5 separate regions of the Homo sapiens genome follow, and regions 1, 3, 4 and 5 are each linked to region 2. Evidence: fine-mapped expression QTL. A gene starts in region 2. Each other region holds a variant in brackets. All regions are shown on one strand. Distances are from middle to middle.

What was found. PIP is the estimated chance that this variant, and not a neighbour inherited with it, causes the effect.
Region 1: its variant is fine-mapped to the expression of DERA in breast (GTEx, PIP 0.98).
Region 3: its variant is fine-mapped to the expression of DERA in sun-exposed skin (GTEx, PIP above 0.99). The same link has a PIP of 0.9 or more in esophagus mucosa.
Region 4: its variant is fine-mapped to the expression of DERA in whole blood (TOPMed, PIP above 0.99).
Region 5: its variant is fine-mapped to the expression of DERA in testis (GTEx, PIP 0.97).

Annotation. Positions count from the first base shown.
Region 1 is chr12:15,863,772-15,870,310 of GRCh38, forward strand. The region is part of intron 2 of LOC102724146 (a long non-coding RNA gene); the gene reads right to left. Among named protein-coding and RNA genes, the nearest start is that of STRAP, 15 kb to the right of the region's middle. The variant C/T (reference allele first, on the strand shown) is at 3,721.
Region 2 is chr12:15,907,788-15,914,326 of GRCh38, forward strand. It overlaps DERA (deoxyribose-phosphate aldolase), which reads left to right and starts at 3,545. Exons shown (of 9, transcript NM_015954.4): 1 at 3,545-3,627. The coding sequence starts at 3,597. RefSeq lists enhancers at 3,235-3,979, 3,980-4,723 and silencers at 3,403-3,462, 3,483-3,832.
Region 3 is chr12:15,954,541-15,961,079 of GRCh38, forward strand. DERA (deoxyribose-phosphate aldolase) reads left to right here. Exons shown (of 9, transcript NM_015954.4): 2 at 2,396-2,493; 3 at 3,648-3,795; 4 at 5,289-5,384. Among named protein-coding and RNA genes, the nearest start is that of DERA, 46 kb to the left of the region's middle. The variant T/G (reference allele first, on the strand shown) is at 2,199.
Region 4 is chr12:15,828,205-15,834,743 of GRCh38, forward strand. It overlaps LOC102724146 (a long non-coding RNA gene), which reads right to left. Exons shown (of 6, transcript XR_007063230.1): 5 at 1-168. Among named protein-coding and RNA genes, the nearest start is that of EPS8, 42 kb to the left of the region's middle. The variant C/T (reference allele first, on the strand shown) is at 2,766.
Region 5 is chr12:15,946,846-15,953,384 of GRCh38, forward strand. All of the region lies in intron 1 of DERA (deoxyribose-phosphate aldolase), which reads left to right. Among named protein-coding and RNA genes, the nearest start is that of DERA, 39 kb to the left of the region's middle. RefSeq lists a silencer at 1,737-1,937. The variant T/G (reference allele first, on the strand shown) is at 4,512.

The sequences.
Region 1 (6,539 bases), 44 kb before region 2:
ATTTTACAATTTTTCCCACCATCCTGACTGAACCCCTACAACAAATGACAAAATACCAACAGCTAATAAACATGAAAATGTTCAACACCATTAATAACTACAAATGCAAATAAAATTTGAATAATGACATATTTCCCACTGACAGATTGGTAAAGTTTACACACAATACTGGCAAAGGTGTGCATAGACATAAATTAGGATGGCAACTTGACCGTATCTACTACATTTTAAAAAAAATATTAAGTGGTCATTTGCTCTGAGTCAACAATGATAGAGTTTGCAAAGTACTAGGAGTTTGGTGCAGCTCGATGGAGGAGAAACTGTCGAAAATGAAAGCGTTAGCTACTTGTGCCAAAGATTAAAAAGAGGAAGGTGGACCATAAGAGATGGGCAATGTGGTTTTAAAACAGTGAGTTGTGTGGGGAGGGAAGGATAAAAAGGGAAACCACAGCTACTTGGGAGGCTGAGGCAAGAGGCTCATTTGAGTCCAGGAGTTTGGGGCAAACATGGGCAATGTAGCGAGACCTCATCTCTAAAAAGGGAAACAAAAGAGGACAGAGTTCCTGATGCTTACTTAACGGCATCTGAATGAACTGATAAGCAACAGTAGGGAAGAAGTAAAGGACTGTTTTATACAATCCTATAGATTCCACATGTATTAAAAAAACTTATTTTGCTATAATTTGAAATTATAGGAAAGTTGCAAGAATAGAACAAAGAACATTCACATATTCATTTTCCAATTTTTAAAATTTTTCACATTTGCTTTATTATTTATCACCTATCTTTGTATAGATGTATATATACACATATAAAAACATAATTCATTTTTCCTGAACCATTTTGGATTAGGCTTCATGCATCATGCTTTTATATCTCCTTATACTATGTATTTTTCTTAAGTACAAAAACATTCTCCTCATGATTATAATCTAGTTATCAAATTCAGGAAACATAATACTAATACAATACTTTAATCTAAAATCCATATTCTAATTTTGTCAATGTCCCAATAATGTCCTGTATAGCATTTTTCCCTCCAGCACAGGATCTAGTCTAGGATCATATATTTCATTTAATTGCCATGCCTTTGTATTCTTCTTCATTCAGAAACAGTTTTCTAGACTTTAAAAGAATCTTTCATGATATTGCCATTTTTGAAGAATACTGGTCAGTTTAGAAAATGTTTTTCAGGCCAGACGCAGTGGCTCACGCCTGTAATCACAGCACTTTGGGAGGCCAAAGTGGACAGATTGCTTGAGCCAGGAATTCAAGACCAGCCTAGGCAACATGGTGAAAATCCCCGTCTCTACAAAAAATACAAAAATTAGCCAGGCATGGTGGTGCACATCTGTAGTTCCAGCTACTTGGGAGGCTGAGATGGGAGGATCGCTCGAGCCCAGGAGACAGAGGTTGTAGTAAGCCGTGATTGCACCACTACACTTCAGCCTGGGCAACAAAGCAAGACCCTGTCTCAAAAAAAAAAAAAAGAAAGAAAGAAACTGTTTTTCAGTTTTGGTTTGCCTGATGATTCCTTGTAATCAGATTTTAGTTATGCAGCCCTGGTCAGATACTTTGTAAGTGATATTGTATCCTTCTCAAAGTATTTGGAAGCATGCAAAGTCTATCCCTCATGGGTGATGTCAATTTTGATCCTGTTGTCAAGCACTGTGAAAGGTCTGAGATTTTACCCTACTTGCAAGCTAACAAACCTAACCTGCCACATTTCACTGATGCTGGTGAAAGATGCTGGTCTGACTTCTTGAGTCAGACACAAAGGATATTATTATTCATGGTGCTGCTGGAAGCATGAGAAGCAGCATATTTACATCTATTCTCAATGTCCCCAAGTTCCACAGGGATAATACAAATAGGTTCTGATGAGTAGCCACATATGCAGTGGGTTGCATTACAGAAGAAAGACCTTGAGCTTAGGGAACTCAAATGTTTTATAATGAACAATAAACATTATTTTGTTTTCCTATGGAGGGAGAAGCTGTCTATCTTCTAAAGCTGTTTGCAATAAAAACATTATTTAAAAGGGAATCCAGAACCAAATGCAGCATGTTTCTGCTCATGAGATTTGCAGAAATAGTGGGGATCCATGGAAAATTTTCTGCCAACACCTGGTCAAGATGTTGTATATTTTCTCCCCTGTATAGTAATTATTTACTCTTATCATACTTATCATCCCTCTAGATTAGGCATCTATTGATGACCTTCACCCAAAGTCCTTTTTACAGTGATAGTTGCTATATTGTTTTAGTCTTGTTATTATACTCCAGATGGATTCTGTACTTCTGTTGTAATTGTTTGGTGGATATTGTATTCTTTCTTATCTGGGAAGCAGTAACACTGCTTTTGAGGAGAGGAGAGAAAGTAATACTCCAAAATAAAAAAAGAAATGAATTAAGCCATTCCTAAGGGACTGAGAAAATCAAATAATCATGGGGAATAAAATGCATACGTCATTTTTAATTTAAAGGTCTTAAACTCAGAATTTAAAAACTGTTCAATAAAATTTTAATTTTTTAATCTTAAACCTATATTGGTTTCCAATTGGTTTCATTTCTTTTGAAGATGAATGCCTGTAACTAAAACTACCACCCCATTTAGAAAAACAATTATTATTCTTTGTTTTTCTTCCCCCTCACTTCTTTCTATGCTGAGCTTTTAATAACGCTTAACTTACATGCATTGCTTAAAGAACTCCAGGAACGGGCCTTGAAAAACTAAGCATGAAATCAAGGTTGTGGAATGTTTCACCCCAGGAAGTATTTCATCTGTGTGTAGTTCATCTATATTCTTGTTGCAATCAACCAGACACCAGCTAGACCACCAGCTGGCCCACTGCTCAAGATAGTCATCAAGACCAGACATACTACCCCTCACATAGTAAACTCTTGTGCATAGTCCATATCCCTGCTTCCCATAAAAACTCTCTAACTAGCCTGAGAAACTTGAGATGATCTTTGTGACATGAGTCCACCATCTCCTCAGGTTGTCGGCTCCTGAATAAACCTGCTTTTTCTCCCAACAACTCTTATCTCTCAAGTTTGGCTTTTGAGCTGTGAGCGGGTAAACCTGAGTTTTGTTACGTGCCTATGTTTAACGTTTTAAGTTATTATCAACAGGGATTATTAATGCTATTACATAGTTTTGCTTAGTATTTGGAATCCCACAGAATACACCTAATATGCCAATGAAAAATAAAATGCCAATGGTGTCTTTGTTATCAGTGAGAAATTAATCAGGAAAAAATTTGAAAAGAGACATAATTGTTACGATCAAGTATTTAAAATGCAACTATATAATATTATTTTTGTAGCTTAGATAATGAAAGTGATTTGTCCTTCCTCTACTAATAATTTTCAAAATATTTGTTTTGTTTTTATTACTATTATTAAGGAGTTATTTTGAATATGTGAATAATACCTGTTGAGAATACTGATCTACAAAATGTTATAGAAGAATAAACGGGAGGAGTACACACTACCCGATATTATGACATACTAGAGAGCTACAATAATCAAAACAGTGTGATATTGGTGGAGAGATAAACACTTACATCAGTGGAACCAGACAGAGAGTTTAGAAACAGACCCACACAAATATGCCCAATTGATTTTTTTTAATTTTAATTTTAATTTTTAGATGGAGTCTCGCTCTGTCTCCCAGGCTGGAGTGCAGTGGCACAATCCTGGCTCACTGCAACCTCTG[C/T]CTCCCTGGTTCAAGTGATTCTCCTGCCTCAGCCTCCCAAGTAACTGGGACTACAGGCGCCTGCCACCACGCCTGGCTAATTTTTTGTATTTTTAGTAGAGACGGGGTTTCACCATGTTAGCCAGGATGGTCTCGATCTCCTGACTTCGTGATCCACCCGCCCTGGCCTCCCAAAGTGCTGGGATTACAGGCATGAGCCATTGCGCCCAGCCCCAATTGATTCTTTTTTTTAAAGATACAATAGCAATTTAATGAAAGGAGGATTGTTTTTTTCAATAAACGATGCTGCAGCAATTGGACATCCACAGGCAAAAAATGAACATGGAACAAACCTCACACATTATACATATGTTAACTCAAAATGAATCATGGCCTTAGATGTAAAACAAAAAACCATAACACTGTCAGGGAAAAAAACATGATACAGGGTAAGGTAGAGTTCGTAGACCTGACACCAAAAGCACAATTCATAGCAGGGAAAATGGACAAATGGCATTTCATCAATTTCTTTTTTCTCTGTGAAACACTGCTAAGAGGAAGAGAAGACAAGCTACATCCTAGGAGAAAATATTTGCAAATCACATATCTGACAAGGGACTTGTATCTAGAATATATGACAAACTCTCAAAATTCAACAGTAGAAAACCAAATAATTAGGAAAAGAGCAAAAGGAATGAACAGCGATTTCCCTCAAAAGGTTATTCAAATGGCAAATAAGCAAACAAAAAGATGTTCAGTATGAGTAACCATTAGGGAAATTCAATTAAAAACCACAGTGAGATATCACTGTATACCAATCAAAATGGCTAAAATAGTGACATCGCCAAATGCTGGTGAGGATGCAGAGAAAGTGGATTGTTTATACATTGCTGGTGGGAATATAAAATGGTGCAACCACTCTGGAAAAAGTTTGGTGGTTTCTTTTAAAAAACAAACATCTGGCCGGGTGTGGTGGCTCAAACCTGTAATCGCAGCACTTTGGGATGGCTTGAGGTCAGGAGTTCAAGACCAGCCTGACCAACATGGTGAAATCCTGTCTCTACTAAAAATACAAAAAATTAGCCAGGCATGGTGGCAGGGTCCTGTAGTCCCAGCTGCTCCGGAGGCTGAGACACAAGAATCACTTGAACCAAGGAAACGGAGGTTGCAGTGAGCCAAGATTGGGCCACTGTACTACAGTCTGGGCGATGGAACAAATAAACAATTAAAAAATTAAAAAAATAAAAAAATAAAAATTAAAAAAACATACAAGTACCACATGACATAGCCATTGCATTCTTGGCATTTATCAGGGGAAATGAAAATTTATGTTCACACAGAAACCTGTATTTGAATGTTCATAGCTGTTCCATTCATAACAACAACAACAACAAAAAACTGGAAACAACCCAGATGTCCTTCAATGTATGAATGATTAAACATACAAATAGGCGAAGGGTTAAACACTTGTTATTTTTTGTTTTTTTGATAGTAGTCATCAAATGAGTATGAGCTGGTATCTCACTGTAATTTTGACTTGATTTGCATTTCCCAAATGATTAGTAACATTGAGCACCTTTCTTTTTCCTTTTTTTTTTTTGAGACTGAGTCTCACTCTGTCACCAGGCTGGAGTGCACTGGGACGATCAGAGCTCACTATGGCCTCCAACTCCTGGACTTAAAATCCTTATGCCTCAGCCGCCTGAGTAGCTGGGACTACACCACGCCCGGCTAATAATTTTACATTTTTAGAGATGAGTTCTCACTGTGTTGCCCAGGCTGGTCTTGAATTCCTGGTCTCAAATGATCCACCTGCCTTGGCCTCACAAAGTGCTAGGATTACAGGTGTGAGCCACTGCACTCGGCCCTCATATTCTTGGTCATTTTTGTATCTTCTTGGGAGAAACATCTATTCAATACTTTTGCCTGTTTTTTAAATCTGGTTGTTTGGTTTCTTTTGTTGAGTTCTATATATATTCTTTTAGGAGTTCTCTGTATATTCAGGACAGCAATCTTTTATCATATAAATGATTTGCAAGTATTTTCTCCTGTTCTGTGGGTTGCCTTTTTACTCCGTTGATAATGTTTTTTCATGCGTAAATTTCTAAAATTTGCATGAAGCCCAATTTATCTGTTTTTTTTTTTTTTCTTTTGTTGTCTGTGTCTCTGGTGTTATATCCAGCATGTGGCTATCCAGCTTCCCCAGGTTCATTTGTTGAGGAGCCTGTCCTTTCACCCATTGAATTCTCTTGGTCCCTTTGTCAAAAATCATTGGACTATAGATGCAAGAGTTTGCTTCTGGCTCTGTATTCTATTGTACTGGTCTATATTTTAGTTGAGTATGATGTTTACTGTGGTTTTTTCCATATATGGTTTTTATTGCATTGAGATAGTTTCCTTCTATTCTTAGTTTATTGAGTTTTTTTTCATCATGAAAGTGTTTTGAGTTTTGTCAAATGCTTTTTGCATCAGTTGAGATAATCACGTGGTAATTTTCCTTTGTTCTGTTAATGTAGTGTATTACATTATTCATGGTGTGTATACTGAACCATCCTTATAAGCCAGGAATAAATTCCATTTAAAATGGAGCTTAATTCTTTAATAAGCTACTGGATTTGGTTTGCTAGTATTTTGTTGAGAATTTTTCCATCAGTGACCACAAGGAATATTGGTCTATAGTTTTATTTTCTTTTGGTGTCTCTTACTTTGGTATTAGGATGATTTTGGCCTCACAGAACGAGTTAGGAATTCTTTCTTCTCTTCAATTTTTTTGGAAAACTTTGAGAAGAATTGGGATTAGTGCTTCATAAAATGTTTGGTAGAATTCACCAGTGAAGTCA
Region 2 (6,539 bases):
CCAGGTTTTAAGCAATCGTCTAGCACTTACAGGCAAATCTCTCTTAGCCTCAGTTTATCTGTACAGGGAGAAAAGAGTTCTCACAGATTTTTTTCAGGAAAAATCTCATAAATATGAAATACCAAATACTTTATGGAAAGGACTTAATTCACAGGAAGCACTTAATATTAGCGAGTATTATATATTGTATCAGTGATTCCCAAGCTTTAGGATTCTGTGGCCAATAGACTTCAAAATGGGGGAGAGGAGATGGAATGGTCGGCTTCTAGCCAACTGAGGCTATTAAAAAAGAAAAAATAATTATCTAACGCCACGATCTTTATAAAACGACATTTTAAAATTCAAATTGGTAGTGAACAACGTAGTCTCAGAATGAAGGAGTGTTCTTTAAATTGAATAAATTTAGCTTCATAAAACACTCAGTATAATTCTTATTTTTTTTTTATTTTACCATGAACTAGGAATTGGATGTTCTATTAGTCTCCCTCCAGTTCTAAAATATTTTGACTCTAATATTCACAATTTTTCATAGTCCTCCCTGCTCCTACACTTTTCTCCATCTGACCTAGAAATGCTGGCTGACAGTTTGTAGTCTAAGTGGTTATTTACCTAATGAACTTGTGAATAATTGCTCTTAGAAATCATAGGAGTAGAGACTATATCAAATGAAATTTGACTGGATAAAACAGTAGGCAGTATAAGAAAAGTAGCAAAGACAGCAATATACACTCATTCATCTAACAAATATTTATAGTCTACTAATTGCCAACTACTGTACTAGATCCTACATATGATGAACCAAACACAAATGATCTATGCCCTTTGGACCTTAAAATTTGTTTTACTCCTATCTCCCAGGACTGGTAGGTTCTTAGAAGCTTCAAGATAAATATTACATATTCCTAGAGCTTTAATTTTAATTAAAGGAGGAGTGAGGGTGGGAGGATAATTAGGTAATTTATTTGGCAGTTTAAAATTTACATTGAAAAACATCAATGAATAGGAATAGCATGCAAAATTTACATGGCTTAAAAAATACAACATGTAATACTTTAAAAGCAATTTTACTCTTGTAAGAGTCAGTTTGGGCTATGGCTCCAGATTGGCATGCATAGTTTATTTTCCTCTGCTTCTCATTGGTGGTTCTTTACGTTTAGTTTGCATAAACATTGTTTGAAGAAATATTAAAATTACAGATTCCAGGGTCCTAGATACTCTGATTGAGTAGGGCTGTGAGGAAGCCCAGAACTGCTTTAGAAAAAGCTCTTGGGTGATTCCCATGTAGTGGTCTATAGCTCTTTCTTTGAGGGGACTTGCCTTAGGGATACTTCAGAAGTTTCATAAGGCAATAAATGTAAAAGGAATCTTCACAAAATGAAATATAGGAACATTTCTCTGTGAAAGAAACTCATTTTTTGCATACTATCCCTGCTGTCTCTCCTAATGTTGCCAAATTAACATACTTTTAAACTGCAGAGATTAATTTGAGATTAATACATTCAACAGGTCCATTTTAGAAAAAGTCCTTGAGAAATTCTTGACTGATACATTGCTAAAACATTGCTTTAAGAGGCTGCCCTAATTCTGATTTTTCAACTAATTTAGGATATCACAATTTAAAAACAAACAAACAAACATTTATGTAATGAATGGTATGGAATCTGGTTTGGAGTTGTGTTTACTTCTAAAAATAGAATTTCATGTATTGCCTTTGTATCTTCTAGAGATGTGAATGATCTCCAGCCAGAGACCACCAGTAACACACCTACAAGTGGACAAAGTTGTGTTTATTGACATTGTAACAAGGGAGAATGCTTGCCATGGGCACCTAATGTGAGGTGTCTCAGTAAGAGGATGTTAGAAACTACATAGGATTTGGGCCTGTCGTAGGTGATTTGGGGAAAGTTCAAGGAAGGATCTGGACTGGATGATGGTAGGAACTGGTGATAGTAGTGCATCTTAATTCTTATCTAAAACATAGGAATGGAGTGAAGCTAGAACTGATTGGTAAAGAAGTCATAATAGCTAGGATAGGGGCTATTTGAACAATATTCATGGTTTTCTATTATCAGACATGATTATGATTATGTTTTTGTTGATTCATTGTGGTCACAATGGCCTTGGCTGATGCTGTGCTGTGAAATTGTATACGTTTAACCAGGGAAAACCATGGTCCAGTTGTGAGTTTCAGGCCAGCTCCAGGCTTTCAGGGCCTGCTTTTCTCTTTTTCAAGGTTAATATAAAAAAGAAAAGTGCTATAGTATGTATGAGTAAGATCTACACACATCCGAAACATTCAACAGTGGCTGTGTGTGGACAAGGCTGAAAGCTCAATGTAGAGGAGTATACAAATATTACTATTCCTATTTAAAACAGCTCAGTAATTACTGTGTGAACTTGACAATAACATTAACAGCTTCCATTTTTTAAGTATCTACTGTATGCCATGTTATGTACTAGGTGCCTTGCATACATTCAACAGCTTTGCAAGGTGAACATATTTTGATCATCTCCACTTTACAGGTAAGTAGACAGACTATTATTTCCAGAACTGCCAAGTTACATTTATTAAATGGAAGAGCTGGTATATTAATGGGTTCAGCTCATTTTGAGCTCACTGTATTTCCCCTATACCAGGATGCCTTTCTATTCAGAACTTTGATGTCTAAAGTTACAGCAATGGAGATAAAATACATTATTGGCAGGATTGTTCAGAGACTCAAATGCTATCATACATCTATATATGATGTATGAAAGCACCTAGCACAATAACTGGCTCATGGTAGACAAATCATAACTAACTGTACTGTTTTCATAGCAGAGGTGCCTCTAAACGTGAGTACAGATAAGTTAACTATATTGAGATTGTGGAGTGACTCGACGATTTTAACCTCTTGGTCACAGAGAAATCAGGCTGAAGCATTTTACCTTTATAGAATCATAGTATTTTGAAGAACCAAGAAATTGTCAAGGTCTTCTTTTACAGATGAGAAAAATGAAGCTCGGAAAAGCAGTTAATTTGCCCAGGGTCACACATTTAATTATTGCCCGAGCTTGGCTAAGAAACCAGGTCTTCTGACTCCTAAGCCCTTGCCTTCTTCAGGCCACATAGCTGCTTCTTTTCATGATGTGTAGATTAGAAAAGTCAGTGTGCCCCGGGGCCCTTGATTGCACCTTGGTTTCCCTAACAAGGATATGGGATCCCTGCTGACATTTCAGACCTTAAGTTGCAGAGCTCTGCACTTGGATCTTCTTCCTTCTTGTTATATAATCTTACAGTTAAAAGTTTCTAGGAATATTTTTATTACGTGCAATTGGCAACTTCAGTATTTTTTAAAGGGTGTTGGTAGCATTATTTCCGGGAGCTACTTAGCGCTCCGGTTCGGTACCTCGTGGAGAAGACGGGGGAGGGGAGCAGCGAGATTTCCTTGCGGAGCAATATTCCTAGGGTACAGACCTCGTAGCCCGGGCCCGCGACTCCGCCCCGGGAGCGGGCAGGGGCGGGGCGAGCGCTCCAGCTGGCGGGAAGGAGGAAGGGCCGGGCGCGGCGCAGAGGCGGGCGCCTACCAGCCGGCAGCTCCGGAGCTGCCCGCGCCATGTCCGCGCACAATCGGGGCACCGAGCTCGGTAAGGGGCCCGCGGGGCTCCCCATCCCCTCTCCCTCGCGTTCAGCGCCGCCGGGACTAGCGCGGGGCCTGCTGCCGCCCAGTGCCCTGGCTGTGGGTCCCCGAGGGGTTTTCGCTGGGGCGGGAAGCAGTGGCGTCTGGTCAGCCCTCACCCCAAGTAAAGGCCGAACCCGGCACGTTCGCGCCGCTTGTCTTTGCACCTAAGCTTTTACTCTTGTATGCGGAAGGAGTAGGAAAGGGTTAGATTATTATCTTCCTGCCTTTTCGTTCACTCTAGCTCGCTGGTTGGAAAACCCAACAACCCAAAAAACAAAACCCAAAACAAACAACCCCCAAGCAGGTAAAAACAGATAAAAACCTTCTTTCTCCTCCTTTTAATAGAATACTTGTGTAATTTAATGCAGTATTTCCGTAGATAATTTTAACCGTAACCTTGAAGTGGCCGTGCTCGTGGAAAAGTTGTCAGCCGTCTGTGCTCAAAATGTAACACTGCAGATTCATGGGATTTTAGAGTTACAAAGATTTGTTAAAGTACCTGTATTATTTCCCAGTTTTCATCTTTTTTTATATTGTTCAAATACTGGCAAGAAACCTTAGTTCAGATTTCTTTTTTTTTTTTTTTTATTGATCATTCTTGGGTGTTTCTCGCAGAGGGGGATTTGGCAGGGTCATAGGACAGTAGTGGAGGGAAGGTCAGCTGATAAACAAGTGAACAAAGGTCTCTGGTTTTCCTAGGCAGAGGACCCTGCGGCCTTCCGCAGTGTTTGTGTCCCTGGGTACTTAAGATTAGGGAGTGGTGATGACTCTTAACGAGCATGCTGCCTTCAAGCATCTGTTTAACAAAGCACATCTTGCACCGCCCTTAATCCATTTAACCCTGAGTGGACACAGCACATGTTTCAGAGAGCACAGGGTTGGGGATAAGGTCACAGATCAACAGGATCCCAAGGCAGAAGAGAATTTTTCTTCAGATTTCTTAACATGTGAAAAATTTATAATTCAAACAGCAAAACCATGATCAAGAGAAGGTTTAAGCGTCTCGTTTAAGTATTATAGCTTGGATATCTGTGTATCCAGGATCTTTAACTTCTTACCTGTGTGACTTCGGACAAATTAATAACTTTGCGCTTAAGTTTCTTCATCTGTAAAATGGTTATTTTAGTGGTAGTTACCTTATAAGGCCGTTAGGAGATTAAATAGGATACATGTAAAGTAGTTTGGTATATTGTGGACACCTAGTAAGTCTTCAGTATAGATAGTATTAGTATATGGAGTTATGGTTTTAGGGGCTAATTTTGAGAAAATTGGCTGTAAATTATATGTAACACATACAGGTAGGTCCTTTTCGCCCTCCTTAAAAGTGACTGGTACTTAAACAGTCTGCACTTCCAAGAGGTGTTCTGGATTTTTTGTCGAATGGTAAGAGAGTAAATCTATCATTTTAAAGACAGTTGATTTACTAACCTGGTTGATTTTGTTTTAGTCACTGTCCTCTAGCTGATTATGTTTTAAACTCTAGTCCTATCTCTGGAACGTGGTCTTTAGTAATAACGGCATTATTTCTTAGATTGGAATATCCTTGAAGGTGGTGGATATGGGGCAGGTTTGGGGTGGTGTCTTACCTGGGTATTCCCAGGAATATGACCATGTGACTATGCATACATCAAGGATGTGCCCTAAATTTCCCAAAACTTAGACATTTTAAATTTTTCTTTCAAAAAACATAATTGAACCATTTTTAAATTTATTTATTTGCAGTAATTAGAATCAATCACTTCCATTCATTTGTTGAAAAGTAATAGACATAAATAATTGCCAGGTAGAACAATAGTAAATGTGGTTTTTATGCAGCTATCGAAATGATCATAGCTTTGTATTTATTATCTTATTTGTTAAAATCAGATTTTTTTCCTTCACGGGTATTAATCCTTAATCCAAACAGGTTTAAACTGAAATGCTAAAATAAGTTATTTGAATTAGGTACTAGGGAAAAAAATCTTTCAGTATTAATTTATGCAGTATATTAACTGATGATTTTTAAAATAGTTTTCTAATTGAAAGTCTTTTTAATAAACATCGTAACTAATTTCTAAAATAAATTAACATTTTTGCTTCCCTTTTCTTATTACAAAAGGAATTCATGGTTATTGTAAAAATTCTAGAAAATACAGTTAGCACAAAAATGTTGTAATATTATTACTAGTCCAATCACTGTTATTTATGATTTGGTGTATGTACTTCTAGTTCATGGACTTAAAAAAACATTGAGTTCCTTTGAGACTAAACCTGACCCTCATGATTAAAAAGTCTTTAAGGAAAACATTGGCATTTGGATGTATGAAAGATGTTTTCCAAATAGGGAATGTACCCTCTAGCTTTCATATTAGAGGATGGGGCCCAGCATTCTGAGTTTTAACAAATCCTGTGGGTAGTACTGAAGCATACCCAAGTTTGAGAACCAATGGCTTAATGATCTCCAAGGTACTATCAAGTTTTGTACCTAGACTATTATGCCCTATATAGTCTATTAAAATGTACAGATATTCTTCTATTTTATTAGATGCCACTTAACTATTGCCTAAAATGCAGGTGTCACGTGGGTAGTGATCTTTCTTTTGTTCACTGATGTGTCCCAAGTACCTAGAATAGTGTTTGGTACACAGAAGGCCCTCAAAAATGTCTTGAGGCTGGGCATGGTGGCTCATGCCTATAGTCCTGGCACTTTGGGAGGCTCAAGGCAGCCGGATCACTTGAGATCAGAAGTTGGAGACCAGCCTGGCCAACATGGCAAAACCCTATCTCTACTAAAAATACAAAAATTAGCTGGGCATAGTGGCGCATGCCTGTAGTCCCAGCTACTTGGGAAGCTGAGGTACGAGAATCGCTTGAACCCAGAGAGTGGAGGTTGCAGTG
Region 3 (6,539 bases), 47 kb after region 2:
GAAGGAGCTTGCAGCATGCACAGATCCAGAGACAGCCTGGCATAATGTGTCAGGGAACTGCCAGTAGTTTAGGAAGGCTGCACCACAGAGGCAGAGGAGCAGTGAGGGAGGAGCTGGGGCTTGAGAATGAGGAAGGAGCCAGATGGTGAAGGAAGAGGCTTGTGTTTGCCTGAGACCCCTCTCCAACAGTGGTGCCAGTGTTTCCAGTGGCGACAGTAGTGGTAGTGGTGCGTTGGGAGTAGAGAATGGGAAGGACTTCAGGGGTGTCCTGTGACCGATAAAGGACAGCCTGTCAAAGCCTTGCCCCACTGAGTAATAGGCCTACCTCTTTTTGATCACGGTCAACAATTAGTTGGCAGTGAGTCTTGGAGTTCACATACTCTTCACTCATTTTTCTATATCTGCTTGAAACAGTCTTTACCATGAACCAAATCAGCATTATCAATCATCTGAGGAGAAAAAAAAAAAGCCTCTTAGGGCTGGGTGCAGTGGCTCATGCCTGTAATCCCAGCACTTTAGGAGGGCGAGGCAGGTAGATCACTTGAGGTCGGGAGTTCGATACCAGCCTGGCCAACATGGTGAAACCCTGTCTCTATTAAAAATACAAAAATTAGCCTGGCGTGGTGGCGCACGCCTGTAGCCCTGGCTCCTTGGGAGGCTGAGGCATGAGTTCGTTTGAACCCGGGAGGTGGAGGTTGCAGTGAGCCAAGATCGTACCACTGCATTCCAGCCTGGGCGACAGAGAGACTGTGTCTGAAAAAAAAAAAAAAGAGGCTCCCCTGCGTTTGAGTAGGGGGTGTTTCTTACAGGTCTTAGATAAATTGGGACGAAGTCTAGAGTGTCTGGTCTGATTTTCTCGGGCTCTGCTAGAACAAAAACAGCCCTTGAGTGGGAAAGCAGAGGCAGATTTCATCGGCCTGACCCCAGACTCCCATTTTCTCTGTGAAGTTGGCTCAGCAAACAAGCAAGAAAACATACAATATCTTTGAGGAGCAGGAGCAGATGGATTGAAATGTTAAAAATCTGGTTTGTTAAATGATTTCAGCTAACAAAATAATTAGAGAGAAAAAGAAGCACCCAAACTCTCTTCCTTCTTCAGTGAAATTTAAATAAGATCATTATTAATCACTCAGAGTCCACCTTGCAATCTCTATACCTTTAATACTGATACTTTTAAGAAGAATGAAATGAAAATGAGTGAGAGAAAGAATGTCATCTGTAAACATTAGTTTAGATGCAAATACTTCAATTTGTATTGTTACATGATACAGTATGTGATTAGCAGTTTTCCTCATTGCATTATAAAGAGTTTTGTAATTAGTGCATTTTTTCTAATGGATAACTTTTTTTCCACAGTACTCTTTTAAGGCTCTTTTAAAAACATGGAATTGCTGGAGAGATATAGAAGTGAGGTTAGTTATAGAAGGTAAATAATGTTCATGTCCGATTTACCGTGAGGCCACCTATGTTTATAGGATATTGGTGGATGAAGTTGAAATATGTGTACCAAACACTGTTGGATGTTAGACACCCAAAGATGAGTAACATCATGGCTGACAATGTACTAAGTACAACGAATGGTTTCACCAGGAATCCTTGATGAATTGATTACAAGTTCTGTGGTAGAGATCTATCCAAATGTTAGCTCTGTCTGGGGAGCTGACAGTGTTTTCACAACAGCTAATATTTAGACTAGGTCTGAAGGTAGAAATTACAGTTAACTGGAAGAGAAGAGAGAGTAGATCAAGGTAGGAGAGAGCATTTCAGAACAAAAGCAACAGAGATAGCTCCTGAAACTTTAAATAATTTGTTTTTTCTTTTTTTCTAACTTCTGTTATATCAGTCAATGTTGTTATTTCTAATACATTTTGAAAAATTTTTCTTTGAAGAAAGAATGGGCTGTATCCTGTCAGCATGCAGTAGGTATTAATCTTGCCAGTAAGCGGGTAGTGAGCACAGATTCTGTAAGCCCCACCATTAGTTCACTTAAGATTTGTTAATCATTTGCTCTCCTGGGCTGGACACTCACCAGTAAGTCTTTGCTCTCAGAGGTGAGGTACGTGGCATGGGTAACACACATTTCCCACGTCGTTAGACATGTCTGTGTGATGAATCAATACAGGTTCTTCCAGTTCCAAATGTATAGGCTGGTACAGAAGCAATTGTGGTTTTTGCCTTTGAAAGTAATGGAGTGATTT[T/G]GCATGAAGTATGCCTTTTGTTGACTGGTCTTCCATCAATAAGGTTGTTTATTTATAGTTGTACAAAAAAGAAATATAAGCTTTAAAAAAAGGTTGATGTCAAATGATAAATGTATCCTTTCAAGGACCATGTAAAAATAGGTGACTATATTTAATGAAACTTTAGGTTTCAGAAAGTGTTTTTCTGTCTGTTTTAGACCTTAGCTGGATCTCCAAAATACAAGTGAATCACCCGGCAGTTCTGAGGCGTGCGGAACAAATCCAGGCTCGCAGAACCGTGAAAAAGGAGTGGCAGGTAAGGGTTCTTCTTGAGCATTCTGTGCCTGTATTTTACAATGCATGGTCTCTTCCCTCAAGGCCACAATATTGAATTTCACTCAAGATGCATCTAAACTTAAAAGATTGCAGCTGTCCATGACTTATTTTAATAATTCATATATGATGATGATGGGTTGGAGAAAGATAACACATTTATCCAAACAAGTTAAAATCTTATCACTCTTGAGTGGCAAAACCGCAAATGAATTTGAGGCATCTTTATTCATGAGTGAATTAAATGGCATATTTTCTCAACACATTTATTCAGTTTTTTAGACATGCCTTCTTTGGTTGTCTTCTGTTTTAATTTTAAAGCCCTAACATCTAAACTTGATGTGTCCACTGTTGAGGCCCTTAGGTATAAGAGTTGACCTTTCTTGACCATCATATTTACCTTACTATTACTTTCTATAAATCATTTTTCAAAATTCCAAAAATGATGTTTCGTAGAGTACTTGCGGTCAGCATTTTCTTCAGTGTATCCCAACCAAAGACGTGCTGTGTAGGATTAAAGGGAATTCAGAGTTCATTTCACAAGTGAGACAGAATACTGTGATTGAATCCTTGAGAGTGATAGTTCACGTTTTGCTCATCCTTAGAAATATTCTGGTTGAAAAGGTAAAATAAAATTCATCAGACTGAGTTGTGAAATATGAATATTGTTTTAAAAATGGAATTGGATTAAATTGAAAAAACACCAAAAAACTTGGAAACTTTTAAAAATGATAATCTCATCCCAGATCCCAGAGCGGGAGGTAAAATGTAAGGTAGAAACCTTCTTTCGGAGTTCTTCTTTGTCAGGGTGGCTCTGATGGGCTCTCCCTTTGGCTGAGATGGAGTAGTCAGAAGTGGGGAGACATGGGCTAATAGGGGTTTCAATTTGGGATATCTGTGGGAGAAAAAAAATGTTTAAGCCTACTCTTCCTCCCTTTTATTTTGGGCAGTGTTCACCTTGTTAGTGGCTCTTGAGCTGTGTTTATATCATGTATCAGGATATTCCATTGAACAGTGTAGGCATAAGATATTAACACCCATACTTGTCTAATGATTCTCTACTAACCACCTGGGTTGGAGGTTGGTTGGTTTGTTTATTTATTAAATTTACTTTGTTTTCACTTTTGTTTAAACCAGGCTGCTTGGCTCCTGAAAGCTGTTACCTTTATAGATCTTACTACACTTTCAGGTGATGATACATCTTCCAACATTCAAAGGCTCTGTTATAAAGCCAAATACCCAATCCGGGAAGATCTCTTAAAAGCTTTAAATATGCATGATAAAGGTAATGTTGTTGTGTGTGATCTATGTGGTGTTTAGTGCTTACAATACTGATTACTAAATCAAAGACGACTTAAGATACAGCTGCTAATGATAGCGGTGATAGAATCCATGATAGAAACTCTTGCTGTGTATACATAGACAGATTCTTCTCTGAAAAACAGCAGGAAGAGAATCTGAGTCTTTTTTTTTTTTTTTTTTTGAGGTCAGTTCTTTCCATCAATGGATTAAAATGCTTGGTAGAGAGTGACTTTATTTCTTTTCAGTTCTTCAGTTTTGGAAAATTTCTGTTTAGTGACACTGAAATACTCTTTCTGATTCCCTAGCCATACGTGAAAAAGCCAGTCTCATTACTTAATAATCACATCTCATACATAAAGTATTTTCTGTGAGTATATGAAATACTTTTGAAAATAAAGTGCAAATGAGAAATATAGCCTGCTTATATATTAGGTTAGATCTTTCAAAAAAAGTCATATTCACTGCCTTAGTATACATGAAAAGAAGGACTTTTCTAGAGTTGCCATAAGTTTAGAACCTTAGCATTTTGGAGATGTTGGACACCTGTAAGAATTGATTCCCTTGTTTTCTAAATAAAGAAACAAAGACCTGGAAGGCTAAGCGGCATTCCCAAGGCTACACGTCTTGTTACTTGCTGGGCTGGTTTTGGGAGCCAGGTCTCCTTCCCATGGAGTATGCTTCATGGCCCCCGAGTGCCTATCTGCTGTGAGTGCAACTGGAGACGTTGAATTGGCCCAATGCAGGTCTTTTATCCCAAATAAACACGTTTAGGTTTGTAGGTAACATACAAACCTAAACAACTCTACGGCTTTTGAAAAGTATTTATTATGTTTATTTCGTGTTGGCCATAAAAATATCACCTTATTTATTGCACTTAAAGGTAACAACTTGATGTAAGGTCTTATGATATTGCTTTGTTTTATAGTGACTATTTGAATTCTAAATTTTTTAAAATTTATGAACTTATTTCTTAAAATCAGGGCTTCCGTTTCAGATTTTATTATTTCTTGCAAAAGAGGGAATAGGATTAGTTAAATGTCATTTTTGTGGTACCACCCTCTAAATTGTACTTATATTTGTCTTCATCTGTCCTTCTTCAAACTGTCCTTTCTTCAGGTATGTCCTATGTGAATGCTCTGTAAATATGGATTTTGTTATCTACATGAAATATTTGCATTTAGTAATGATCACCAAATTTACTATTTAGACATTTTTAAAAAACAGTACTATGTTAATCTCAAAGATGAGTATATCAAACTTGTTTTTATGACTTTAACGATAAGAAAATAATCCATATTGTCAAGAACTAGAAGGGAATGTGGAAAATAAAAATCTTTTAATTTATTGCAGTATTGTGGGGGAATTATTTTTTTCTCATTTGATTTTTGCCAGTGTTGCGATATAAATAATAATTAAAAGCATGTTGTATGAGTTGAACTTCATTGAAAGTTGGCTATTCCTATTTTTTCTTGATAGGCATTACTACAGCCGCCGTTTGTGTTTATCCCGCCCGGGTGTGTGATGCTGTAAAAGCACTCAAGGCTGCAGGCTGTAATATCCCTGTGGCATCAGGTAAAATGTGTTGTGGCTTTTGTTGTTATTTTTTAAACATGTTTCCAGTTCTTCATACAATGGGGTATTATATGTAGGTTTGTACTATGATTTAAATTAGTTTATGTATTTAATTAGTTGTATTTATTCATGATTTTAGTATGTACTAATTGCTTAGTAAGTGGAAGACATTTATTCCCAACAATATAGAACTGTATTCCTATCCTTAAAGAAACTCAGTTTAGGAGGAATAGTCAGGTAAAGAAAAAAGTCATAAGGCATGACATATAGTATATATATATATACACACACACACACACACATATACATACTATATATGTATATGTATATATACATATTAACTATATATATAACTATATACATACTAACACACACATGTATGCATGTTCTGTTATACATATATATGTAAAATATAATAATAATGATATGCGGGCTGGGGACGGTGGCTCACAACTATAATCCCAGCACTTTGGGAGGCCGAAGCAGGTGGATCACTTGAGGTCAGGAGTACGAGACCAGCCTGGCCAACATGGCAAAACCCCATCTCTACTAAAAATACAAAAATTAGCCAGGCATGGTGGCAGGTGCCTGTAATCCCAGCTGCTGGGAGGCTGAGGCTGGAGAATCGTTTGAACCTGGGAGGCAGAGGTTGCAGTGAGCTGAGATCATGCCCCTGCACTCCAGCTTGGGTGATAGACCAAGACTCCGTCTCAAAAAAAAAAAAAAAAAAAAAAAAAAACAACGATATGTGCAAAATGTGTAGTTGCGGTTCTGAGCAGGGAATGATATATTCTGCAGAGGTTGGTGACACCAAAGTAAGAGAAAGCATCGTCGTGGAGATAATTGCATTGGATCTTAAAGGATGAGGAGGAGTTCACAGTGTTAATAAGGTAGGGAACCACATGTTAGACAGAGGCACTAGCACGTGTGAAGGCACAAAGCATGTTCAGGGAACTGGAAAAGGTTTGCTGTTGTTGACTACAAAGGCAGGGCTCTGAAGACAGGGCAAAGGGGGAGATACAGGAGTTGAAGCTAGAGAGGGAGATCAGGGCAGAATTGCAGAGGGGATCCATGCCATGTGGGGGCATTTGGCCTGTATTCTGATGATAGGGAAGACACTGAAAGGTTAGAGGCGTGACGTGATCAGCTTCATGG
Region 4 (6,539 bases), 80 kb before region 2:
ATTGTACGGGAGGGTCCAATGTAATCACCAGGATCCTTTAAGCATGAAGGATGGAGATGGAAGAGTCAGGGTCAGGGTGATGCAGCCTCAGAAAGACTCAGCAGGAAATATCTGGCTCTGAAGGTGATAGAGATTCAGGAGTCAAGGAATGCAGGCAACCTCTAGAACCTGGAAAAGGCAAGAAAACAGATCTCCTACAGCCCCCGGCAGGAAGGCAGCCCCATTGAAACCTTGATTTTAGCCCAGTGGAACCAATTTCAGGCCTCTGACCTTTCAGGATGGTAAGATAATAAACTTATGCTGCTCTAACCCATCTAGTTTGTGGTAATTTAGGAGAGCAGCAATAGGAAACGAATACACAATTCAATTACTAATCATATCTTCATTGATTCTTTTTTTGTTTGTTTGTTTTTTTGAGACAGGGTCTTGCTCTATCACCCAGGCTGGAGTGCAGTGGTGCCATCTTGGCTCACTGTAGCCTTGACCTCCTGGATTCAAGCAATCCTCCCACCTCAGCCTCCCGAGTAGCTGGGACCACAGGCACCAGCCACCACACCCACCTAAATTTTTTGGATTTTTTAGTAGAGACAGGGTTTCTCCATGTTGCCCGGGCTGGTCTTGAACTCCTGAGCTCAAGCCACCTACCCATTTCAGCCTCCCAAAGTGCTGGGATTACAGGCGTAAGCCATCATGCCTGGCCAATTGATTCTTATGTTCTACTTCCTCTCAAATGGCTTTACAATCTGGATAAAATGGCAGGCCCCACTTCTGCCTTCATTTGTTAGCTCCTGGATGTTGCCATAGATTCCTAACAATGATATAGGGCAGTGGTTTCCAACCTTTTTGGCACCAGGGATGGGTTTCATTGAAGACAATTTTTTTTACAGACCCAGGGGGTGGGGGATAGTTTTGCAATGATTTAAGCACATTACATTTATTGTGTGCTTTATTTATATTATTAATACATTGTAATATATAATGACATAATTATACAACTCACCATAAGGCACAATCAGTTGGAGCCCTGGACTTGTTTTCCTGCAACTAGACAGTCCCATTTGGGGGTGATGGGAGACAGTGACAGATCATCAGGCATTCGATTCTCATAAGAAGCTTGCATCCTAGATCCTAGATCCCTCCCATGCAGAATTCACAATAGAATTCGCACTCCAATGGGAATCTAATGCTAGGGCTCATCTGACAGGAGGTGGAGCTCAGGTGGTAATGGGAGGTATGGGGAGCAGCTGTAAAAACAAATGAAGCTTCACTCACTCACTCACTGCTCACCTCCTGCTGTGTGGCCCAGTTCCTACCAGACCACAGACCGGTACCAATCTGTGGCCTAGGGCTTGGGGACCCCTGATATAGGGGATCTTGTCCTAAACTGTGAGTCAGGTCTAGTCTATTTCTGCTGTTAATTAGCTTATGACCTTAGGCAACCTCTCTGCTAAATTTCCTTGCTCTCCACCCCAATACACACACACACACACACACACACGTGTGCACACACACACAAACACACATACACACCAGACACCAGAAATTGAGTAAGTTGACTAAGATGATTATTACATTTCTTTCTAGTTCTTGTTAGTACCATTTTGCAGTCTGTTTCTTGCTTCCTCACATCTTCTATACATCAATCCAGAATTATTCTTAAAACCTGTTTGGTATAAATTAAATTCTTATGTAGAAGCATGCATTGACTTTTCACTGCTTAGGGATTAAATAAGGCCCTATTAGAGACCTTTAACCACCTGCCCACTGCCCCATCTCTCTGCCACAGTTTTTCTTTTCCAGAGTTCACTACTCACTGCAGCAAAACAGGTCTCATTCATTCCTGAGACATGATCTGTTCAGGCTCTTCCTCCTTCCTGAAATACCCATCGCATTTATATCTAGTTATCAGAGTCCTGCTCTTTCTGTAAAAGGCCCAGCAACTACCACTCCCCTGGGACTGTTCCTCCCCCACAATTGCTGCCTACACTGTGTTTCTCAAACCAAATTATCATGAGAACTTATAAATGATCTAAGTTTTCCAACTCAACACTGAAGATTGAGGATTGTAGAGAGACGATAGAAGAGGGATAAAAGAAAAGAGAAACTAGTTCAAAAGAGTAAGGCTTTGCCTTTCAAGTCTCCGGAAGGAGTGGGGGAACAAATGTGTTTGGAACTGATCTAATATGACTTGCATTATTATTTCTTTGCCAGTATGTCTTGTCTCCCAAGGTATAACTCCTTAGTGACAGAGTCATTTCTAATATTTCTTTTTATCCTTGTCATTTTTTAAAAAAAGATGTCTTACCAACAAAAACTACTTACTTGTTTGCTCAGTGTTGTAATACAAAAATGATAATGACATTAATACACCAAATCCAGTTTTAGCTTCCACAATTCATGAGGATAAAAAATACATAATGAGCTCATCAACCAAGTATTTGTTAAATTCCTGCTTGTGTATAGTACATGTTAGCAAAATAATCCCCAGTACTGGACGGTGTGGACTCTCAATCCCCCTCATTCCTTGGCCTCTGAATCCCACGTTTTCAGCATGACTTTTTGGTAGGTGCCAAATATAACTCATAGTTCTCTAACCCCTCTTGAATTTCTCTGGTTTCTAGGAGGGAGTTCTCCTACCAGTGGTCCAAAGCCTACTTCATTGCAAGCTGTGTAGTCACAGCCATATTGCCAGGGCAGTCAGCTTCATCCAGTGGAGCAACATGGAGGCCTCGAATGAATACAAGATGTGGCTCATTGTCCAAAAA[C/T]AAGGGCAATTTCTTAAGAAACTGGGCATCTTTATGAGAAATTTTTAGATTTCCTCAATTTAGTTAACCCATAATAGTACTTAGTCAGATTCTTTGCTTGAAACTTTCTGTCCAAACCATCTATTCAGCCAATATTTGCAGGTCTGACTAGAGCATTATCTTCATGGGGGCTCTCTCCAACTTTGCCATTTTATTCTAAAACCAGAAGGACTTCTGTATGATCGATTTACACTGCTATACTCCATGATGCTAATAGCTGAGTGGTCATGACGAAGGTGAGCTCTTGGCTCAAGTCTGGGGTGATAAGTTTAATCCAATGTGAACCTGAGTACTTGGTCTGAAATCCCAGACACTGTGTCAGCACATATCCGTCCTTGAGAATCTAACACAATACTATTTAAAAATTGTTTCATATAGCTAAGTATTTCACTTTTTCCTATTTGTTCTCTTTCTAGTCAGCTCTCTTCCAGGTTTTTTGTTTCTTTTGTTTCCCACACTTAAGTTCATTTCTACACACATATTGTACCAACTGTCAGTAGCATACAAATGCCTCCTTCTTTGGCTTGTCAGTGACATAAATTTTCTCTAATATAACCTGACAAGGGCGTTGTAGTAGAAATGTCATTTATTTCTCTCATTTAGTCATAGATTTTAAGTCTCTTTCAAAGACTCTGTATCTTTCTCATAGAAATTCCTTTGCCTATACAATATTTTTCTTTCCCACACAGAACATATATTTATATGTGACATAATGAAGCTGGCAAGGAAATGACTGTTTCAGCTTTTTAAAACCACAATAGTAGCTTGGAGCTAATATACAATGGGCTAGTTAGTTCCATCATACATACATACAGGTACATGTATTACACTACCATCTTTAAACCATGAATCATATACATTCTCATTCATATACACAGCCATGCATATAAATTAACTGTTGCTGCACAGCCACAATCTCTCACATTTCCATTTTCTTCCAATCTTTCTCCGTCTCTTCTACTTCTTAACTATGTTCATCATAACCAGGACTATGACATACTGGGTAAACTGGCTATCATGCCCAATATATCTGGAAAAACATTTAGACACACTGCTTTGCAGAATGAACACAGCTGGAATCCAGAGAACGGTGCAAATTTTTTTAAAAAAATTTCTATATTATATCATCTTACTTGAGGCTATAGAATAAGCCTTACATGGTCACCTTCAAGTCTTCTCTCTTCTAAGAATCCTCAATTCTTTTATTTTCTATCTTTCAGCAGTTGGTGCTAAAAATGGTGGGTTGCCACCACCCCATAACATGCTAGCTCTCTCTTGGGAGAGCACAGGTGAATTGAGGGCTCTTTACAATCCTTCACGGACATAGGCTTGGGCAGCTCAGAATCTTCAGAGTCAAGCAACTGTAAGACAAACGAACCTTTTTCTTTCTAATATTGGTCACCACTCATAGCAAAATTTCAATGCACGATCATGCTTTAAAGAACTAGACCTGATGATAGCAAGAAATTCTTTTCCCTTACACCTTAACTATTGCATTCACCCTCCTTTCCACTCCCTGCCCCACCCTCCTGGGACTATTGACTGGTGTTAATAATCCCAGAAGATTGTCTCCCTCATAGAAAGACTAACGCATACTTAACTTCATAGAAAGACAAGTAAAGTGATGTCCTTGGAATTTCTGCTTGAATTTGGTGCCCTGGACCCTCTTATTGAGAGATGAGATTCCAGGGTGAGAGTAACAGGCCAACTAGTCAAGAAAGAAAGCTATTTGTTTTTCTTTTGAACTATGAAAAGTCCCTGTTTGTGAGTGTATTTTAGAAAGAAGAAAGGAAGGATATGTCTGGAACTTTGTCCTGTTTTCTGCAACAAAATGTGAATGAATAGTTCAAAGAGTGAAAACTTTTAGTAATGCTTGATGATGTCTCTCAGGGATAAGCTGGATCCCCAATGTTTTGAAGATGCTTTGAGTCCAAAAATTGATAATCAGAAAACTACTTTGTGTTTGTTTAATGTATCCCTGTTCTGATTTCAATTAAACTCCACATTTTGTTTTACAACAATAGATGAAGAAGACAGTCCTCTTCTGCCACACACATGTAACATCTAGCTGGACACAGCAGACACAGATGCCCAGAATCTTGAAGCCTAGCTCAGGGTGACCCAGGTTGTATCATGGCCTACAAAACTGTGACTGGCCTGAGTCTTCAGGTCTACATGGGGCACTTGCTCTATGCAATTGCTTTGGGCAAGAGTAACTGACTATGCAGAAAGGATGGTCAGGATTTAAGGAAATTGCCTGGGAATGTCTTGAGAAACTCAGTCCAGCCTTTGTGACGGCAATATAGCTCCTGGGATGTAGGCAAAATCTGACTAATGCATGAGACTTAACAAGGAAGATGTAAATAGCAATGGAAGATGGAGAAACAGTGAGTATAAAACTAAAATTGGGGAAAAGGCCAATGCAAGCTTCGAGGTCACGCTGCCATAGTTGAGAAGGAGTAAAACAGCCCAGGATGAAATCCTTTAATCAGGAAGAATCCTTCTAATTTCAAAATGTAAGCTCTTTAAGTGCAAGAAACTAAGGCTTTTGTTAGGAAAGGCAACGTGCTAACAGGCCCTAAGAGTCCCTGTCCAGTATTGCTGGATATACCAAGAATTCACGGCTCTCACTGGTCTTCACCTGGGCCTTTCTTCAGGATTATGTTTGTAGCAAGCAACAGCCTTGGAGGGATAAGGTAGTATCTTCTCCTAGACAAAGAACAGACTTGTTACCCTGCACTCAAAGTTCTCTAAGCACAGTGTTCCTCTCTCTAATGAGTGTGTAGGCATCTGTACAGGCCCCCCTATGTCATCCCCATGAAATTTGGGGGTCGTGGAAAATTGATACAAGAAAATGTGAAGATCATGCTGCCTGTTACATCATAAGTAATAGAGTCCTTTATCTCCGATTCAAGAGTCTAATACCTTTTCCCAGTGTCCATGATACAGTAACAGGCTAGCCTATTAGCTTGAAAGTAGAGTAAAATCCCAGACTGTCTATAGTTCCTGACAGCTATATCCCCAGCACCTAGAAAAGTAAAATCACATAGCATCCTATTTATTGGTGGTTAAAAGTTTGTGCTAGGTGTTCGCTTTTCAAATTTAATTAAATCAAATTAACGGGATTTCCATTAAGAAATGTTTCTAATAATTTCTGAATATTTGTCAAATCATATATTAAACAGTTACCAAAAAATATTTGGGAAAGAGCATCAGCATTTTAATTGCATTACACATCATGTTTTTAATTCATTTGTTTAATTCTAAAGATAGCCATTTTATGAAGATAATAAATACCAATAATAAGGAAATTTTAAAAAATCTTTCATTATTAATTTTTCAGTGTACCCAGACCAGAATCAAGATTGAGAAGCCTTGGAAAAATAAGCAACTCAATTTTCCCCTTTGGTCTAAGGAAGACATTGATTCAAAGTCCTCTGAGTTCCATTAAGATTTCAGGGGTAATCCTCTCACTTGTGTCTATAATTGATTTATTAATAAAATAACCTCTGATTAGTTATACCTTTCAACAGAATGTTTTTCCACTTACACAATAAAAAATTAAACAGTTTAGACTTGAACTAATATTTGAACTAATAATTGTGTACCCATCTGTGTGCTATGCACTTTCATATAAACAGTGATACAAAATCTCTTGGCAACACATGGCCAGCGTTAAGTCTCTGTAACTGGCTCATTGTATTTTTTTCAATATGTTGCAATCCTTTTTGCATG
Region 5 (6,539 bases), 39 kb after region 2:
TTTTCCTGTGGGCATTTAGTGCTATAAATTTCACTCTACACACTGCTTTAAATGTGTCCCAGAGATTCTGGTATGTTATAACTTTGTTCTCATTGGTTTCAAAGAACATCTTTATTTCTGCCTTCATTTCATTATGTACCCAGTAGTTATTCAGGAGCAGGTTGTTCAGTTTCCATGTAGTTGAGCAGTTTTGAGTGAGTTTCTTAATCCTGATTTCTAGTTTGATTGCACTGTGGTTTGAGAGACAGTTTGTTATAATTTCTGGAGTGCTTTACTTCCAACTATGTGGTCAATTTTGGAATAAGTGTGATATGGTGCTGAGAGGAATGTATAGTCTGTTGATTTAGGGTGGAGAGTTCTGTAGATGTCTATTAGGTCTGCTTGGTGCAGAGATTAGTTCAATTCCTGGATATCCTTGTTAACTTTCTGTCTCGTTGATCTGTCTAATGTTGACAATGGGGTGTTAAAGTCTCCCATGATTATTGTGTGGGAGTCTGAGTCTCTTTGTAGGTCTCTAAGGACTTGCTTTATGAATCTGGGTGCTCCTGTGTTGGGTGCATATATATTTAGGGTAGTTAGCTCTTCTTGTTGAATTGATCTCTTTACCATTATCTAATGGCCTTCTTTGTCTCTTTTCATATTTGTTGGTTTAAGGTCTGTTTTGTCAGCGAATAGGATTGCAACCCCTGCCTTTTTATTGTTTTCCATTTGCTTGGTAGATCTTCCTCCATCCCTTTATTTTCATCCTATGTGTGTCTCTGCATGTGAGATGGGTCTCCTGAATACAGCACATTGATGGGTCTTGACTCTTTATCCAATTTGCCAGTCTGTGTCTTTTAATTGGACCATTTAGCCCATTTACATTTAAGGTTAATATTGTTCTGTGTGAATTTGATCCCGTCATTATGATGTTAGCTGGTTATTTTGCTTGTTAGTTGATGCAGTTTCTTCCTAGCATTGACGGTCTTTACAATTTGGCATGTTTTTTCAGTGGCTGGTACCGGTTGTTCCTTTCCACATTTAGTGCTTCCTTCAGGAGCTCTTTTAGGGCAGGCCTGGTGGTGAGAAAATCTCTCAGCATTTGCTTGTCAAGAATTTTATTTCTCCTTCACTGGAAGCTTAGTTTGGCTGGTTATGAAATTCTGGGTTGAAAATTCTTTTCTTTAAGAATGTTGAATATTGGCCCCCATTCTCTTCAGGCTTGTAGAGTTTCTGCTGAGAGATCAACTGTTTGTCTGATGGGCTTCCCTTTATGGGTAACCCAACCTTTCTCTCTGGCTGCCTTTAACATTTTTTCCTTCATTTCAACTTTGGTGAATCTGACAGTTAGGTGTCTTGGAGTTGCTCTTCTCGAGGAGTATCTTTGTGGCGTTCTCTGTATTTCCTGAATTTGAATGTTGGCCTGCCTTGCTAGGTTGGGGAAGTTCTCCTGGATAATATCCTGCAGAGTGTTTTCCAACTTGGTTCCATTCTCCCCATCACTTTCAGGTACACCAATCAGGTGTAGATTTGGTCTTTTCACATAGTCCCATATTTCTTGGAGGCTTTGTTTGTTTCTTTTTACTCTTTTTTCTCTAAACTTCTCACTTCATTTCATACATTTGATCTTGAATCATTGATACCCTTTCTTCCAGTTGATCGAATCAGCTACTGAAGCTTGTGTATTCATCATGTAGCTCTCGTGCCATGGTTTTCAGCTCCATCAGGTCATTTAAGGACTTCTCTACACTGGTTATTCTAGTTAGCAATTCGTCTAATCTTTTTTTTGAAGGTTTTTATCTTCTTTGCGACTGGTCGAACTTCCTCTTTTAGCTCGGAGTAGTTTGATCATCTGAAGCTATCTTCTCTCAACTCGTCAAAGTCATTCTCTGTCCAGCTTTGTTCTGTTGCTGGCGAGAAGCTGCGTTCCTTTGGACGGGGAGAGGCACTCTGATTTTTAGAATTTTCAGCTTTTCTGCTCTGTTTTTCCCCCATCTTTGTGGTTTCATCTACCTTTGGTCTTTGATGATGGTGACGTACAGATGGGGTTTTGGTGTGGATGTCCTTTCTGTTTGTTAGTTTTCCTTCTAACAGTCAGGACCCTCAGCTGCAGGTCTGTTGGAGTTTGCTGGAGGTCCACTCCAGACCCTGTTTGCCTTGGTGTCAGCAGCAGAGGCTGCAGAACGGCGAATATTGCTGAACAGCAAATGTTGCTGTCTGATCGTTCCTCTGGGAGCTTCGTCTCAGAGGGGTAACCGGCCGTGTGGGGTGTCAGTCTGCTCCTACTGGGGGGTGCCTCCCAGTTAGGCTACTCAGGGGTCAGAGACCCACTTGAGGAGGCAGTCTGTCCATTCTCAGATCTCAAACTCCATGCTGGGAGAACCACTACTCTCTTCAAAGCTGTCAGATAGGGACGTTTAAGTCTGCAGAGGTTTCTGCTGCCTTTTGTTTGGCTATGCCCTGCCCCTGGAAGTGGAGTCTACAGAGGCAGGCAGGCCTCCTGGAGCGGTGGTGGGCTACACCCAGTTCGAGCTTCCCAGCAGCTCTGTTTACCTATTCAGGCCTCAGCAATGGCAGGCACCCCTCCCCCAGCCTCACTGCCACCTTGTAGTTTGATCTCAGACTGCTGTGCTAGCAATGAGCAAGGCTCCGTGGGCGTGGGACCCTCTGAGCCGGGCGTGGGATATAATCTCCTGGTGTGCCGTTTGCTAAGACGATTCGAAAAGCACAGTGTTAGGGTGGGAGTGACCCGATTTTCCAGGTGCCATCTGTCACAGCTTCCCTTGGCTAGGGAGGGGAATTCCCTGACCCCTTGTGCTTCCTGGGTGAGGTGATGCCTCGCCCTGCTTCGGCTCACGCTCAGTGGGCTGCACCCACTGTCCTGCACCCACTGTCCGACAAGCCCCAGTGAGATGAACCCGGTACCTCAGTTGGAAATGCAGAAATCACCCGTCTTCTGCGTTGCTCATGCTGGGAGCTGTAGACTGGAGCTGTTCCTATTCTACCATCTTGGAACCACCTACCTGTTTCTTCTTTTTTAAAAATGCCGGTTGCCACTGACAAAACTGATTTCATGACTTATCTGTGAGTTATTACCCTCATTTTGGAAAATATGTTACTATATGATCTGGGCCTTGTCACCCTCTCTTCCATTTCCCGTACCTGGCCTTGCCTACTTTCCCCTGATTACACTGTGTCCCTGCTTTGCCTTAGATATGACTGTTCACTCTTGCCTTCTCCTCTTTCTGTTACCAGAAAGGGGTCCTGATACAGACCCCAAGAGAGGGTTCTTGGATCTTGCACAAGAAAGAATTTAGGGCGAGTCCAGAGTAAAGTGAAAGCAAGTTTATTAAAAAAGTAAGGGAATAAAAGAATGGTTGCTCCATAGACAGAGCAGCCCTGAGGGCTTCTGGTTGCCTATTTTTAATGGTTATTTCCTGATTATATGCTAAACAAAGGGTGGATTATTTGTGCCTCCCCTTTTTAGACCATATAGGGTAACTTCCTGATGTTGCCATGGCATTTGTAAACTGTCATGGCACTTGTGGGAGTGTGGCAGTGAGGAGGACCAGAGGTCACTCTCATAGCCATTTTGGTTTTGGTGGGTTTTAGCTGGCTTCTTTACTGCAACCTGTTTTATCAGCAAGGTCTTTATGACCTGTATTTTGTGTTGACCTCCAGTCTCATCCTGTGACTTAGAATGCCTTAACCATCTGGGAATGCAGCCCAGTAAGTTTCAGCCTCATTTTACCCAGCCCCTGTGCAAGATGGAATTGCTCTGGTTCAAATGCCTCTGACATTTCTGCCTAGAACACTGTTTCCCTATATGATGGCCTCATTGCTTATTTCACGTGGGGTCCTGCTCAAATGTTTTATTATCAGATTTTCCTGGCTCATGCCCATCCTACATTCTCCATTTTCTTACCCTATATAACTTTTCATTGTAGCTCAGATGTATAATATAGTTAATAGATATTTATGTGTTTATCTCTTATTAGGAAAGGCCTATGAGAATAAGGATTTTGTTTTTTCAGCACTGCTCACTCTCTAGAGCCTCCAGTGGTGTCTGGCACCATTTTGGATAGCCCTTTGATATTAGTTGAATGAATGAATGGTATTCATAGACAGACTTGCATTTATCAAACTCTCCAGGAGGTTTTCTGTCCCTTGTCTGTCTTGTATCTTGTGTAAGTCTTGACTTTGGGTAGAGATCCCTGCAGATTCTGTAAACAAGGCTGGAGCCATTTGATCTAGGAATTCTGGGTCCTGTGTACCTTGAGCATGGACTAGAGGGGAATGTTGGCCCAGGGACAGTCTGTGCCCTTGGCCCCACAGACCCCTGCCCATGGGTAGGAGCACAGCTATGGGTGGGCCAGAGCAGGCTCTAAGTAGAGTGTGGGCCCATCTCATCCCTTTGTAATGTTGGCATCATGTAGGAGCAATATAATTATCAGTTTCTACCTGGGGGCCTGTGGTGAAGATTTTGGTGATCTTTTCTATGGGAACAGAAACAGGGCATTCTGACATCATCA[T/G]TTCTGCCTGACATTGTGTAGCTGTATCAGGCTGGCTTTCTGGAATAGCTCAGTGGCCAAAGATTGATCACGAAGGGTTTAGAGCTGTGAAAATGCCCCAGGTAGGTGTTGTATAATGCTGGTGCCTGGACCACAGACAGCTGCCTTACTGGTTTACCTACTGTAGTCTGCCTTTCATTCTACCTGTCCTTCACACTGCTGCCTGGCAGTTCCTCTTAATTCAAGAGTCAAGTATTATTATGTGTTATATTTCCTGCTCAATAAGATAATGCATGCTCTTTGTAAGAATGTTTAAATATTAGGGGAATATATAACGTGAGAAAGTAGGAATATAATCTTACCTCTGAAGAAAAACACTTCTATCAATTTGGCATATAGTTTATTTTCTTTGCACATACACCAACAGATACATGTTTTGTGTTCTTTTTGTTTTTATTAACAGTTTTATTTTAAAAAGCACACTGCTGTGCATATTTCTTATTTTTACTGAGTAATGTATCATAATCAGTTTTCTACAACAGTACTTACTGATGTACCTCGTTCTTTTTTTTTTTCTTTTTTTTGAGACGGAGTCTTGCTCTGTTGCCCAGGCTAGAGTACAGTGGCGCAATCTCAGCTCACTGCAACCTCCGCCTCCCAGGTTCAAGCGATTCTTCTGCCTCAGTCCCCTGACTACTGAGACTACAGGCTTGCACCACCATGCCCAGCTAATTTTTGTGCTTTTAGTGGAGACAGGGTTTCACCATATTGACCAGGCTGGTCTCGAACTCCTGACCTCGTGATCCGCCTGCCTCGGCCTCCCAAAGTGCTGGGATTACAGGCGTGAGCCACTGCACCTGGCCTGTACTTCATTCTTTTTAATGGCTGAATTGTATTCTGTTTTTTGGATTTGCTATATATTATTGAACTGGACATGGATCTTGGTGTCATTTCCAACAGTGCTGCCACACATACGTTTTCATGTTTGCATTTGCAAACTTATGTACGTATTTCCATGGGACATATTCTGTGTACTGATTACTTTTTTAAAATACTCCTTTAATTCTGTTACAGCCCTGTTTGGAGATCTTCTCTGACTTCTGGTCACCTGTATCATAAAGTCTAGACTAGAGCCTAGAGCCAATAGAAACATAATGTGAGACATGGAGTCATTTTAAATTTTCAAGTGTACACATTATAAAAAAAATAAAAAGGAACAGGTGAAAATATTTTAATAGCATTTTACTTAGCCAAGTGTACCCCAAATATTATAATTTCATTGTGAAATCAATGTTAAAACGTAATTAGATATTTTACACCCTTCTTTTTGTACTGAATCTTTGAAATCTATGTATTTTACACTTAAAGCACATTTCGATTTGGACTATCCACATTTCAAGGGCTCAGGTAGGCACAAGTGTGTGGCTCCTGATTGGACAGCGCATGTCTACACTCAGCCTGGTGCTTACAGCACTTTACAAGTAAGCCATAGTCAGTCAAACAAGCCACATTCAGTCACATTTAGCCAACCTGCTTTTGCTTCTGACAGCCCCACAAACTTGCAGTGCTTCCGGTTTATTTTTCCTGCATCCTGCCCAGTTTTTTGGGCAGGGTTTCTCAGCTTTGGCACTGTTGAAGTTTGGGACCACATAATTCTAAGTTGTGGGTGCCTTGTAGGATACTGAGCAGTATCCTTGGCCTCTACCCACTAGATACAAGTGGCACCTTCTCCTCTAGAATCCCCCTACCCCATCTGTGGTGACCAAAAATGTCTCTAGACTGAGAAACAATGCTTTACGGTGAATCAGAAATCTCCACTTATCCATTAGGGTTGTTTTAGCCAACTGGATAAGCCTACTGTGACCTACCCTTCCTCTGAACTTGACTTTTTATCCAGCCAGTGTGGTAAGTTTTTATTTTTGTGTATGAGGAACAAAGTTAAAATCAAAATAGAAAAAGCGCCTCCTTTTGTAGGGTTATCATTTGGTGTTACATGCTTTAGGAATACTGTGAAAAATACAGGAACTTCTGCAGAAACACAAATGAAAA